4 linked regions of the Homo sapiens genome follow. The protein of the gene in region 3 interacts with the protein of the main gene of each other region in a pairwise test. Each region holds a gene or a part of one and is shown on either strand. Other genes may lie near its edges.

Region 1 (3,500 bases), on a different chromosome or scaffold from region 3:
AAGCTGAACTGGTAATAATGAAGTAAGAAAGGAAGGCAGAAGCCAAAACATAAAAGATTTTGTGTTATTTTAAAGGCAATGTGGGGGTTATTTGAAAAGCAATGAGAAGTTACATAAGTACTTGAAGTAGAGGAGAAATGTAATAAGATTCTCATTTCACTTAGCGCAACCTGGCTGTAAAGCACAGGATGAAAGAAAAGACTGAAGCAGAAAGACATCCAGGAGATTGGGTTGATCTGATCTCTGGTTGATCCAGACCTGAGAAGACGATGGTCTATATATACTACAGCAGAAACAGTAGGGTAAAGAACAAGAAATTAATCTAATGGTAAAGAGGTAGAGTGGATATGACTTGATGTCCGGGCTGAATATAGAAAGTCAAAGAGAGGAAAGAGCTAAGGAAAAGGCCCAGGTCAAGGAAGACTAGGGTGATGGTAGAACCATTCATGGAAATGGGGAACACCTGTAAAAGTGGGTCTGGCTGACACATATAATTCAATTTTGAATTCATTGTGATTGAGAGGTTGTGGAGATGTCTAGATGACCCCAAGACACACAGGTTTTGATTGGAGACTAGATACACACTAGAGATAGGGTTTGGATGTTGTCATCACATGGGGATACATCACCTAGAGAAAAAGGGTAGCTTAAACTGAGAGGATCCTTAAAAGAGCTCTTATCACCATCAACATATAAGGTGAGGCAGAAGAAAAGGCATGAGGGCCAGAAGAAATATGTAGTGAGGCAGGGAGATCAGGAGACAGTAATATCCCTGACAGCAATGCTACGTAAGAGGGAATAGTTAACTATTATACCCACATATTCTTTGCTGCTTCTCATTCTCAGGCATCTGAAATTCAAAAGTATGTCTTCCAGCAAGACCCGAGGACAGGTAAACTGGCTCCATATTGCACAGAAAACCTTTTTTCCTTCTTTAACATACCATTTCCCATGTACTATTTAAGTGGACAATATTATTTACTTTAATCATGAAATAACCAAAGTGTATTTCTAGTATATGCTCTCTAATTACATTCTGAGAGCTGAATAAATGTCCTGGTAAAATTAAAACCAAAATGCCCCATACTTGTCTAAGCTAACCAAGATAAATTGGCAGCTCTCTAATTACTTTGGCTGTGAGAAATAGTCTGGGAACCAATCAACTAAGGCTGATTTTTGGCCAAAATATTTTAGAAGCAGTGAAATATAAAACTTGAGTTTCCACTATTATGTTAAAAGCATTAATAGTTGTTTATATTTTAATCATAAGGGTTTCCACTCACTGTTTACTGTCTGACACAGTGCCCATAATCTGTTTCTCAAAATATTCTACAAAGTATGTATTATCCCTGTTTTACAAATAATAAACAGTAGTCACTTATCCAAAGCCACTAATGGAGAACCACACAGCTGTGTATACCTTCCCTCACACACACTTCATAATGCAATCACAGCTCCATTATGCACGAATGACCTACTCAACCACAGAGTCCTTGGCCTAGTACTCAAAGAAGGTTCCTGCCAGTTAGTGAAAATGACTATGAAATAACATAAATGTATTCTCAGATTTATTCAAAATATTCTCTCTTAAAAGTAAGAAATTTATAGATGAATTTAAATAACAAAGAAAATCCCATTTGTACGTTATTGCTTGACCATGTAATCATAACTGAGCTGGTTGACAGACACTGAAGACAAAGTACAAATACAGACAGGAAGAGCACCGACAAAACCATATGGTTAAGCCTCACGAAGTCATCCTCAATCACCACTGTATTCACAACACCCATAAGGGTTAAGAGCCTCAAAAGTGATGATCAGTGTCACCCATCCAAATGGAAGTTACAAGACAGAAAACAATGGAAAAGACTAATTGGATCATTACTCAACATATTCTTGAAACAGTTTCAAGAGTTCAACAGAGCTCAAAACAAAACACTACCTTCTTTGTTGATAAAATGGCTTCTTGAACAAATTACCACCATCAAGAAAACATGATTACAGTACATCCACTCACCCTAATTATCATGCCTATAACCCTGAGTTTCTTTCATATGTGGATAAGCCTTTAAACTCTATCACCCATGAAAATGAGAACTCTTGTAGTGGAATGCTGACATTCCCACTAAAATGAAAACTCCATGAGGGCTGGGATCTCTCTTTTATATACTGCTATGTTCCCAGCATCTAGACTGGCACATAATAGGTATCTATTAAGTACTTACTAAATGAGTATTGTTCAATCATCTAGTCTAATATCCTCACTTTATTTTATCAACAACCAAACTGAGGATCAGAAAGACCAGGAGATTTGCCTGAGATGGTAAAGTCAGATGGGCAAGCCAAAACTGGAACTAAGGTTTCCCAAACTCTGGCAATGCTCATTGACTAATATTTAATTATAATTACCCAAAATCCATCATTAGTATAGTTATATAATACATTAAGTAATGATCTTTCTACTTATCATCAACTAAAAAGAACACTGCTGTGAACAGCCCGCCCATTAGACAAGCATGTGGTTTTGACACAATTACCATGTTGGCATGCTCCATCTGGGTTGATAAAAGTGTTCGTCATTGTGACAGCTTCATGAGAAAAAGCATGCATCATTTAACATGCAATGAAGCAGAAAACCATCATCAATAGAGGATCAGTACTGGTTAGGTAAGGAGCTGTGTTACATAAACCCATTCTTTTTTTTCCAACGTTTAAAAAAGGAGGTAAATTCTAATGTGCTATCTCTATCACTAGGCTGAACTGCCAACCATATAACATCATGCTACTTAAAACATTGGCCCTTAATCAGAATACTACAGCAAGCAAAGCAAAGCAGATACACAACCTCACAAACACACAAACAACTTCAAGCAAGGGGTTCATGCTAATTCTTGGGTTCAGATGTTTCCTTAAAACATTGAGGAAACTGGGACCTTACTGTTAACAAAACCCCTGAGCAGGGAACAGGGTAGGTGCTGCTGCCAGCTGAGTAGCTCCCATTCTTTGCTGAGATCACAAGCAATATGAGAGTCTTTAATTTCTACCAAGAGAGCTCAACCCATTTTGTAAGGATCCAAGATTCACAAAATGGGAAGGTATGTATTTCTAAGCTTCAAAAATGGTAGCAAGAGGATGGAGGGAGGCTTTCATTTGAGCTTTGAGAAAACAACAAAACTTTGCAACAAATAACCATTGAACTTAAAACATATTGGCAATGTGTAGACAGTTCTGGCCATTTTCTACATCGGATAAAACTAGTTTTCATCTGCTTGTGGGTAGAGGATATGTAGAGCATCCTGCTGATACCCACAATCACGTGCTTGTATGTTCACCTCCCCGAAGGGCCTATAGCTATTGAAAGAGAAGGTCTTTTAATAATGCACTATTTGATGCCATCAAACGTGAGGGAAAAAAAACAAATGTAGAAATGATTCAGCAGCCACCTAACTCTACTTGGGAAATAAAGAGGTGATGCTTCTCAAATATATTCATCATTTAAA
Region 2 (3,500 bases), on a different chromosome or scaffold from region 3:
TGATGCCCCTCTCTCTATCCTCAGTCGATGGTTTTATGGTAACATCAAGCTGTTCCTCAGAGTCAGTGCTACTGTCACTATTTGGAACACCTTCATCGTCACGTGCATTCCATTCAGTCTGATTTTCAGAAGTGCTCTTTTGGACGGCTTTCCTGATTTTACAAGGCTGTTCCCTCAATTCATCAGCTGAGGACAATGAATGAAGTTGTTTGGGTGCGACTTCACACTCACTCTCCTTCTCACGTGCAGTGTGGTCCAAATCCTCACTGCGGTTACAATGACTAATGGGATCTGCCGGATTTGTCTTCTGTGGCACAGCTTTGACAGGGGTGGAAGACATCCGGTGACCTTTGCAGATCTGTTGATCCCTTTCTAAGATTTTCAGTACAAATGAGGAATTACTAGAAAATGATATTTCATCAGCAGCTTGTTCTAAAAACAAAAATTCATCTAATTCCAAATTTTCCTTTTCCTTTTCTCGTTCCCAAGTCTCTAACTTTTTCTGAAGAGAAACGTCAAGAGAAGATTCAGACTCTTTCATGGTCTCCCTTATGGGGCTCTTAGCAGCCAGCCGGCTGGCCGGCCCTGTTGAAAGAGGAAGTCTGTCTTTACCTTGTGTCTTATTCCACCCTGTGCAGCCAGTATCGCAAGGTTTTGGACACTCAGTTACATTTTCTTTATTATTAGATGTGACTTTGTTTTCAAATTTGATCTGGTCTCTAAACTGCCCATCACATTTCTTCCCCGTCTGTATTTTCAATCCTGACGGAGAAAGACTTTTCCTGTTACTACACTTCAGCATTTTCGGCTTCTGACTGAGGGTGACAGAACCACTCTTGGTTCTAGCTTTACTGTCCTTTTTAAGGATAGGGTTGTCTGCACACAGCTCTTTATTTTTAAGAGCGGTTTTCCGCTGGAGTTGCTGTCTATCCATTTTAAACAGCGGCTGGTCCTCGGAAGTGCTCTGGTTAGTCACTAGTTTACTTTCTTTGCCTTTTTGAAACTTAGATTTGGCATTAGTAAATCTAGCTAAACCTTCTCCTCGTTTTAAAAATGGTTGTTTTGGTTTTGCTTTGATTGGCAATGGTCCTTCTGCTTCCTAAAATAAAAGAATAATATTTGAATTAATTTTGGTATATCCAAGTGATCTCAAAGTTATTTTTAAGGCAAATTATAGATAAATCTCTAAAGCCTTAGAATGATTTAATCAGAAGAGCACAATTGCTGACCTTCAGCTGTTTTTGCTTCAGTTCTTGCTCTTCCAACTGAATTTGTTCTTCTAAGTAATCTTCAAAGGTCTGTTTCCTTTCTCCAATAGCAGCTTTAATGGGCCTAATTAGAAACAGAAAGTTATTTAACATGCAAATCATAATGTGTGAATATTTTACACTTAGTGTGCCTGGTATAGAAACCCTTGACAACATGGAGAACTAACTTTTCCCAAAATCAGTGCCTCCCTTTGAGAACCTAACAAAAGCCACAATCCCTCTCCACACCTTAAAATAAAGAAACATACAACACTCTTCACATGACTTTGGAGTCCTAAGAACCCTTCTGAAGTCCATCTATCGACCACAGATTAACACATGGAGTAACATATTCATCAAATAACTTTAAAATGTATTTCAAAAATAGATCACTAAATATGCATTTTTTTAATTAAGAAAGGCCCTTAATGTGAGAACAATAATCAGAAAAGTCATTTTGTCCATATTATATTAAAAATTTTGAAATAAATTTTTAAAATAATCAACTTACTTAAAATATAAAATACTTAATCTTTGCCATATTTTAAAATTCTGTAACTAAACTGATAATGCAATTATAATTGATAAGTGACACCAAATGGGAGATGTCAATACTTAATTTTTCCCTTCTCCAAAAATAGGATTTAACTATTTGAGAGAAAATTGATTTTATCCAGATGTTTCTCTTAAGTGAAAAAGCTTCGAGAATACAATGTCAAGGCAGCTTGACATATCTCCTCAACCTCTTTTGTTGTTGACAGTACATAATAGGTTGTATCTTTAACCTTAAAAGCATAGTCAAGCAAAAACCAGAAAAATATAGATCTTTCAAACAAAGAAAGTGTTCAATAATAAAGGCTAGCTATTGTACTAAATAGTCACATTTCTCACTTTCAACACGAACAATACCTTTCTTCAATATTAGCCACTTCTGAGGAATCATCATGTTTTTGTAAGTTCTTATCATTTGCTTCCTGAATCTGTTCTGTCACTTTCTCCCAACATAAGATACTTTCTCCTGAGATAAAAATTAAGAACAATTTAGCTCAAGAAAAGCATATTAATGTCTTAAAACATGAGAATTCTACAAGTTACTATGCTAAAACATTTTTTTAATTAAAAGTAATGTATATCACAGATTTTACAACACTCAAGGAATTCTTTAATATAATTAAGAGAAACTACAAAACTCCAATTAAGACACTTGAGGCCGGGTGTGGTGGCTCACACCTGTAATCCCAGCACTTTGGGAGGCCAAGGCGGGAGAATCACTTGAGGCCAGGAATTCGAGCCCAGCCTGGCCAACGTGGCGAAACCCCGTCTCTACAAAAAAAAAAAAAAAAAAAAAAAAAAAAATTAGCCAGGCGTGGTGGCACATGCCTGTAATCCCAGCTACCTGGGAGGCTGAGAGCAAGCAGAGGTTGCAGTAAGCCAAGATGGTGCCACTGGACTCCAACCTAAGTGACAGAGGAAGACCCTGTCTCAAAAATAAAATAAAATAAAATAAAGACACTTGACATTCTTCAAAAGGTTAATGTCATGAGGAAAAAAGTGTGGGGTTTTCTAGAGATTAAAAAGGCTAAAGAGTTGTAAGAATCAAACGTAATACATGAACTTGACTGGATATGCATTAATTTGATTGGATCCTTTAAAAAAAAAGCACCTTTAAAAGATATTTTGGGATAACTGGGGGAATCCCAAAATGGACTTGAATATTAAGGAATTATCATTAATTTCTTTAGATACAATAATAGCACTGTGGTTATACAGATGAATGTCCTAATTTTTGCTTGATGCATACTGAAATATTTGGAATGAAGTAACAAGATACCTGCATATTATTTTCAGTGAAATGGTTCAGCAAATTATACACATATAGAAGTAAAGATAAGGATATACATGTAAAAGATATATATACACATACATACACTGACAAAGTAAATACAGCAAAATATTAACTGCTCAATCTAGGTGGTGGGTATATCAGTAATAACTGCAGTGGTCTTTCAACTTTTCTAGATGTTTGAAATTTTCCAAAATAAAAGGCTATGGAAACATGTTGTATAAAAAAGAAGAAAAACATATTTGAGCTTTCCACACCGATGAATTAACTCTAAATTAGGAACAAGGCATTATGGTTGGGTGCAGTAGCTCAGATCTGCAATCCCAGTACTTTGGGAGGCCAAGGCAGGCAGATCACTTGAGGCCAGGAGTTTGAGACTAGCCTGGCCAACATGTTGAAACCCCATCTCT
Region 3 (3,756 bases):
AATAAAAGATGGCATTAACATATTCTGTCACTATCACAGGGTATTATTTTCCTCTTTCTTACATGTATACTTCTTCCCTACAGATGGTGGCAAGGAGGTCTGGGTATTCCATCCTGTTAACCATTCCATCCACCGCAAGCACACAGCTTCCTTCTACCCTTCCACAGTCTAATCCTACATCTGTCTTGGCTTCTATCAATCTATTCTTGCACAGTCTTTGCTTAGGCCTTTCCCTCTATCTAGGCACTAGCTATTTACCCTTACCCCTCCACATGTCTCACTTGCTATTTTTTGTCACACTTTATACTCCCTTAGAAATCTGAATCCATGTTTTTAAATGAGAAAATAAGTTTAAAACTAATTTTCTAACTCCTGATTTACGGACTTTCACAATGCACTTTCCCCCAAATGTGGTGGCTGATGGAGTGCTTTCTCTGTTGGGGTTTTTACTTCATTGTGGCAAGTTCCTCAAATAGTGTTCCCCTGTACATTGGGACCAAAGAAATAGGGATAAATTCCAACTCAGCTTCTCAAGTAAGCAATTTACCATGTTTTTCTTATTTCTTATATATGATTCAAAAATAAATTCCTAATTTAGTTTAAAAGTTTACTGGCTTGTCTCATGTCAGAAGATTTTTCCTGGTCACAACAGATTCACAATTAGTACTTTTCTTATGGAAATTCAACAAATGTGTTGGCGGTGGACTGCGGTGGGAAAGAGAAATAATAAATATTACAGGTAATTCTGTCCACCACTGCACTCAAGTGAGCAGAACTGTGTGAGATGGGAATCTCAAGTTCATGAGGCTGGTCTCAGTTCCTCCATGAGTGATCTCATAATGTTAGCATCTCACTGAGCTCGGTGGCTTTTATTTTAAAAGAGACAGCACACATAGTTTTCATGAAACATCACCCCTATACCTACCTATAAGTAAGCTAATTCCTTCATTAGGTGGCTAGTGAAAGAAATGATCAACATTCAAGAAGAGACTGGTTGCTCTGGACTCGCGGAAAAAGTTTCTCAGTTGCCATATTGTGCTTCTCCTTTCTAGGGCACTCTCAAAGTTAATTTTGATTATATACGCAATTTCGCTATTCTACAGAAGTGTGAGTGATAAAGGGAGCTATATGGGTCTGACAAAATGTTTGCTTTGCTGTTTTCTTCCTTCATAAGATATAAAAAAAAAATTAGTATCAAGTGTTTTTGGATAACCGGAAGCAACATTACAAACAAAAGAGCTATGAAGCTTCTTACTTAAGTAGGAACTGGGTCATTGGTTATAACATTTTAAAAGAAAGGTGTTACTAAGTCAAAGACAAATAGGCAAAAGCCAAGACCACGTAGTGGAGAACTTCAGCAAGCTTTGTCAAAGAAAGTAGGGCACAGGAAGAAATTTGTCAAGTCTTGAGGCACCTGGGTTAGAGAAGGTCCTGGAAAAGGTGGCAGCTGCTCGCTGGGTAGAGTACCTGCTGGAAGTTCAGTACCCACTGGCAGCACCTACAGACAACAAAGGGAAAATCAAGTCCGTGAGACGCTAAATATAAAGACTGCGTACTGAAGAGCAAATCAACTAATTTGAATGCACAAACATAAGAATAAAATATATATAGTTAAGACATGTTTATCACTGAGGTTACTCTCTGGTATCTGTCTTAAAAAAACGGTGTGACAACTAATGTTGTTATTATAGGGGTTACTACGATATACCTATAAAATGAATAGTAAAATACAGTAAAAAGTTGTCCCCTAGGGAGAACAGAACAAAGGCTATATGTACATAAGTGGCAGTGTCCAGATATTCTTGAGCTACTTATTTGGTACAGTATGTATCAGACTTTCGCCATGTAAAACAAGATTTTCTGAGAAAAGAAAACAGTAACTGGTTAAGAAATAACCAATGGGCAGGTCTGATAACAAAAGGCATCAGAAATCTAATACTATTATCAAGAATTTCTATTTTATCTGAGTGAAGATTCTGCATTATCCTACTATAAAAAGAACCTCACATCAATGGCAATGCAGAAAGAGGCTGAAGCATACAATACAGTAGACGTAACACAGCCTTGTTATTTGGAGAAGGTGGCAGAACAAGAGGAAATCCACCACAGCATAATTAGATAATAAATTTTAGTTACTTCAGTCCTAGGATTAGATTATTTATTTCTCCTCTGTATCAATTTCCTTACTAACTTCCAATTTTTTATAACCCCCAAACTGTACAACTGTGGAATCTACAACAAAACCAAAAATTTGCTTCATTCTCACTGAAACAAAGACTATGAACTGCTATTATTTACGTACATTTTGCTGACAGATGCATTTAGCTCCCTTTTGGGATACAGACTTCTTCAGTTTGTACCAATTCAGAAGAAATACCTGTATTTTACCCGATAATTATACCATCTTGGAAAACTGTGCAGCATAATTAACCCTAAAATCCTGCCACACTTGAAAAAAAAATCTCATGTTCATTGTAGATATACCCTCAAACTGCTGTCAATTTAATAAATACTATAAGCCAGGTACCTTTATAAATATGTTTCTAACTTACAAGGCTGAAGTGAAAAATGTACTCATTAGGGAGAAAAAAAACTGATCATATTTATCTAATTATTTTATAACAATAATTTTACCGGAGCCTTAGTTAGAGGTGGCTTGGAGGGAGCAGTTCCAGGTTTCACTCCTGATGTAGTAGTGCTGACTGGGGTAGAAACTTGCCCAGGTGTGACCACTGGTGTAACTGGCAAAGCAACTGTTCCTAGTGGTAAATTGGTTGGTGGTAAGCAAGTACTTGTGGTAGAAGTCAGGAGTTTGCTTGGTGCAACAGCAGTAGTTGGGATGCCTGGTGTGACAGTGCTCTCTATGACTAGTGAGGTCTCCAGTGAGACAGAGGCATGCTGAGCTCCAGATGAGCTGTGTTCACTGAACAGAGACCGCAGCTTTTCTTCTAGAGTCTTTATGTCATCAATTCCAGGAGCTTTGGGTTGTGTATCAGAATCTACTTCAGGACAATGAGTATGGGGCTGGTTGGGAAGCAAAGCTGGTTGAGGCTGACTATGAATTAGTGTCTGCTGTACAGCAGGCACATTGGCAACAGGCTGTACCAAGGGTGGGATACTAGGTACTTGGGGTAATAAAGGTGTAGAAGTAGGTCCTGCTGCTTGGGGAAGAATAGGAGTAGAAGCTATCACTGATGGAATGACCAAAGGATGCAGCCCACCAGGCTGAGAAATATAACTAGACACTCCTGCTCCAGGAGAGGAAGAGGAAGATGGTGCAGAGAGGGAGAAAGCCAATCCAGTTGTACTGCTATGAGATGTCTTATCTAGTGAGTGTGCGCTAACTACCACGGTTTCAGCTAAAGTAGGAGTAGAAGTACTGCTGCTAAGCTGAATGCACAGCTGTGAAGCTGTGCTTGGGAATGAAGTGGTGGTAGAAACTGATGTTAATGTGGCTCCCACAGTAGTGCTGCCTGCTGCCTGCTGAGATACTACAGCTGGAGGCTTAGGACCTGGGGTAGCAGTACTGCCCCCTGCAGAGGCTGAAGTTGCTGAAACTGTTACTGAAGGATACAGTGCTGTACTAGAAACAACGATCTCAGATGTGGATGTGGGGACTTGAAGTGACGGGGATGTAGTAGATATTGAGACAACTGCAGGTATTGTGATACTTGAAACTACGCTGGAAAGTACTGGTGATTCAGACACAGGTGGTATGGGGAGACCACCTGAAGTTACCACACCTGTGCTGGTGGC
Region 4 (3,500 bases), on a different chromosome or scaffold from region 3:
TTTTTTAATACTGTCAGCTACAAAAGAGTTCAAGGATATATATTAGTTCATAAGATATACTAGAACCTCTTCATGACTTTGAAAACTGGGCCATTTCCTTTTCTTTTGTAATCAAGTCAAAAGAGCCCCATTGTTGAAAGTTTAACAGTCCTAGTTGGAATACCCAAACTCCCAGCCTTAGAGAGGAAGGGGTCCTCACTTGGAAAATGGGACTAACAACACTCCCATCACAGGATTCCTGGATAGTCCTGGTCACAGTCGTTCCTCTTCCCTATGTGGACTATAAATTTGCAAGGGAAAACAGAGGGCCTGTTTTGAATGCAATGAAACACAAAGATAGAAAACTAAGGGAAAAGGTCAAAAACAAGAGAATTCTTGAGGCCAAAACTAGAGGTCATCTTACCTCAATCTTCCAGCAAAGAGATAAGTAACAGGAAAAGATTATTAACAGTCGAGGAGCTTTACAGACCTAACACACTACAAAGCAATCACCTGAACGATTACGTACTCTACCAAAGCAAAGCAGAAATCCCTGTGATTGGGCAGCAGGGAAGAAACCCTGCCCTGTAAACAAAGAGGCTTCTGGCCAGGCTGGCAGAAATATTGCACGTTCATAACAAATGCTCTGTGCACTAATCCCAAACACTCTAACTCCATGACGACCCTCCGCTAACTCCCTGGAAATGTTCCTTGGAGCTGATCCTTCTCGGGTTGAAATATTCAGCTAGTGCTCATTGTAGTAATGAACATTCATTCACTAGCCCTTTTTTAAACTCATCTCTAATTATAACTCCATATGGCCTCTAAGCCCTTACTACCTGTAATTTTAAGAGCTTGAGGTAATTACTATGCAGCAAAGTTTTGTTTTTGTCGCGAGTACCACATAAACAGGAATTGGATGTGCACAGCTTCGTTTTATTCTAGAATGCCCAACGCTGAATTTTGTTTTTAATCTCTTACCCAACAACCAATTATCTACAGAAACTCAGAGGTTTGCAGAACTTGAAGAAGGGTGGAAATCACGTCTCTCTAACCTAGGATGTGGGACCCGTTCAGAGACTTTCTGCACAGCCTAATCTACCCTCTTCTTTAAGACACCTAGAAAAGCAGCAGTCCATAAATTTCCCTTGGGATCACAAGGTCGCAGTGGCCTTTAGCGGAATACTTTCTCTTTAGGTCTGAACTGATTTACTATTTTCCTCTACCTCACGTAGAGGAAAATAGTAAAATTCCTATTTACACGAGGTAGAGGAAAATAGTAAATCAGTTCAGACCTAAGGAGACTGTGATGTTAAAAAATAAACAAGGCACTGAGAACACAATTTCTTAATCAGCTCAGCTTAAGAGGAGCGAGAAACAGTAGAGAGAACTTAGCTTTGTATTCAGACAGACCAGAGTACTCTCGAACTTCAACTCTGCCATTTTATTTTTGTTGTTTGTTTTTAAGACAGGGTCTCACTCTGTGACTCAGGCTGGAGTGCAGTGGCATGATCATGGTTCACCGCAGCCTCAACCTCCTAGGCTCAAGCCATCCTCCCATCTCGACCTCCAGAGTAGCTGGGACCACAGGCACGCACCACCACACCAGGCTAATTTCTGTATTTTTTTGTAGAGGCGGTATTTCAGCATGTTGTCCAGGCTGGTATTGACCTCCTGGGCTCAAGGGATCCACCTGCCTCGGCCTCCCAAAGTGCTGGGATTACAGGCATGAGAACTTTGCCACTGTCAACTACTATGCACCTTTGCAGGATTCAGCACCTCCTTGGGCCTCAGTTTCCTCATATGTAAAATGAGGTCACTGCCACCTGCCTCTCAGGAATGTAAAGGGTTTACAGTAATGAACGAAAAGTGCTGAGCATGCTACCTGGCACTTGAAAGGCAGTCAATAAACAAATAGTAACTATTATAACCATGAGGTTATTAGCCCTATGGGTCAGCTATTTGGAAACCACCTACCCAAGGGAAAAACAGTGTGAAGTCCAGTTTTCAGCCTGCCCAAGGAAGCCTGAGCTACAGCAACCATGGTATGATGAGGAACCAATGTCTGCCCATTGGCAGGAGCCATAGATACAAACCCAACCACTTGCTCCAAAAAGTGCTGCAGCTGCGGCTTTCACACTGCACTTTGCATTCTCCTTTCAGCTCTGTTGCGGAGGTAGCCGCTACTAAGCTTACTTTACCAGTTACTAATGTGCCAAAAATGGATCCAGCCACATTCTCCATGAGCTTCCCACTCCCAGGAAGTACCCCTGTTCAGTAGACTCCAGAAGCAAAAGACACCTGCCAGAATCTGTTCTCTTCCTCCACCTCCCACCTCCCCTTTGCATGATGGATACCTGCACCCTTCTCGCTCCTGGAGTCGGACATTTCCAAAATCAGTCATTTGGGGTACGGGCCTAATAGAATAAGCTTTAATGTAAACCCAAGTAAAGCATGTCTTATGCCTCCTGTGCCAATGAATTGAGGAGGCATCTACCCAGGCGAGGCTAGCCAGGTGCCCCACAGTACCCCACGGGCCACTGTGTTCCTCTTGATTAGAAAAGTTCCTAACTTATTGCAACCCAGGGTTTACATCCCCACCTGACTCAGGCCCCTTAAGGCAGGAACCTTATCCTGTTTACCAACAACTCTGGGTAATACATAGCTTTTGCTAGTAACAGGGGCTACTAACAGCTGGGCACAGTGGCTCATGCCTGTAATCGGAGCACTTTGGGAGGCCGAGGCAGGTGGATCACCTGAGGTCAGGAGTTCGAGACCAGCCTGGCCAACATGGTGAAACCCCATCTCTACTAAAAATACAAAAATAAGCGGGGTATGGTGGCGCATGCCTGTAATTCCAGCTACTCAGGAGGCTGAGGCAGGGAGGATTGCTTTAACCCGGGAGGCGGAGGTTGCAGTGAGCTGAGATCACATCACTGCACTCCAGCCTGGGTGACAGAGCAGAGTCTCAAATAACAAAAACAAAAAGACACCTTAGTGTGAATTTAAGATGAAGCACTATCTCCCCCAAGGATATTGGCTTGAGGGATGCAGGAGGGTGCATGAGGAGAGAAGTACAGGGGGCTGCAATCGGGACACGGGGGACACCAGGCTGAAAACACTAAGCCTTCCCTCCTCGGTAAAGGTCAGTCAACCCTGGTGCTATTTCCATCCCCCACCCCATTCCCTTTTTTTTTCTTTTTTCCTTTTCCATTTTCAGGATTTTCATGTCATAACTGGTTTCTTGATAACAGCAATGTCACATGCCTGAAAAAAGTAAGCACTTGGTCATTCAGAGAAAATTACCCAATTTTTGGTTTCCCCTTGAACTTTGTTTTCCTGCTCTGATGCCAACCTCTCAGCCATGCCACCGCCCTTTAGTGCCGAGATCAGAAGATGAAAAGAAAGGAAAAGCATAAAATCAGTTGGATATTTTTAAAAGGCCAATGGCATCTCTTAGATAAATGGGTTTCACGGGGAAAGAGAGTTAGGAGGCCATTAAATTTCTTTAACTCTCCCTC

Evidence for each region. The genes of interacting proteins can lie anywhere in the genome.
Region 1: the proteins of WNK1 (region 3) and EPB41L2 interact in a two-hybrid assay, tested with the Homo sapiens proteins (one large-scale study listed by IntAct).
Region 2: the proteins of WNK1 (region 3) and CPAP interact in a two-hybrid assay, tested with the Homo sapiens proteins (one large-scale study listed by IntAct).
Region 4: the proteins of WNK1 (region 3) and CGNL1 interact in a two-hybrid assay, tested with the Homo sapiens proteins (one large-scale study listed by IntAct).

The regions. Positions count from the first base shown.
Region 1 is NC_000006.12:130,958,746-130,962,245, forward strand, and holds part of EPB41L2 (band 4.1-like protein 2), read right to left. Parts: intron 1-3,500. UniProt on the Homo sapiens protein: Required for dynein-dynactin complex and NUMA1 recruitment at the mitotic cell cortex during anaphase.
Region 2 is NC_000013.11:24,905,862-24,909,361, forward strand, and holds part of CPAP (centrosomal P4.1-associated protein), read right to left. Parts: intron 2,266-3,500; coding exon 2,157-2,265; intron 1,333-2,156; coding exon 1,230-1,332; intron 1,100-1,229; coding exon 1-1,099. UniProt on the Homo sapiens protein: Plays an important role in cell division and centrosome function by participating in centriole duplication. Inhibits microtubule nucleation from the centrosome. Involved in the regulation of slow processive growth of centriolar microtubules.
Region 3 is NC_000012.12:884,963-888,718, reverse strand, and holds part of WNK1 (serine/threonine-protein kinase WNK1), read right to left. Parts: coding exon 2,635-3,756; intron 1,499-2,634; coding exon 1,415-1,498; intron 1-1,414. UniProt on the Homo sapiens protein: Serine/threonine-protein kinase component of the WNK1-SPAK/OSR1 kinase cascade, which acts as a key regulator of blood pressure and regulatory volume increase by promoting ion influx.
Region 4 is NC_000015.10:57,379,505-57,383,004, reverse strand, and holds part of CGNL1 (cingulin-like protein 1), read right to left. Parts: intron 1-3,500. UniProt on the Homo sapiens protein: May be involved in anchoring the apical junctional complex, especially tight junctions, to actin-based cytoskeletons.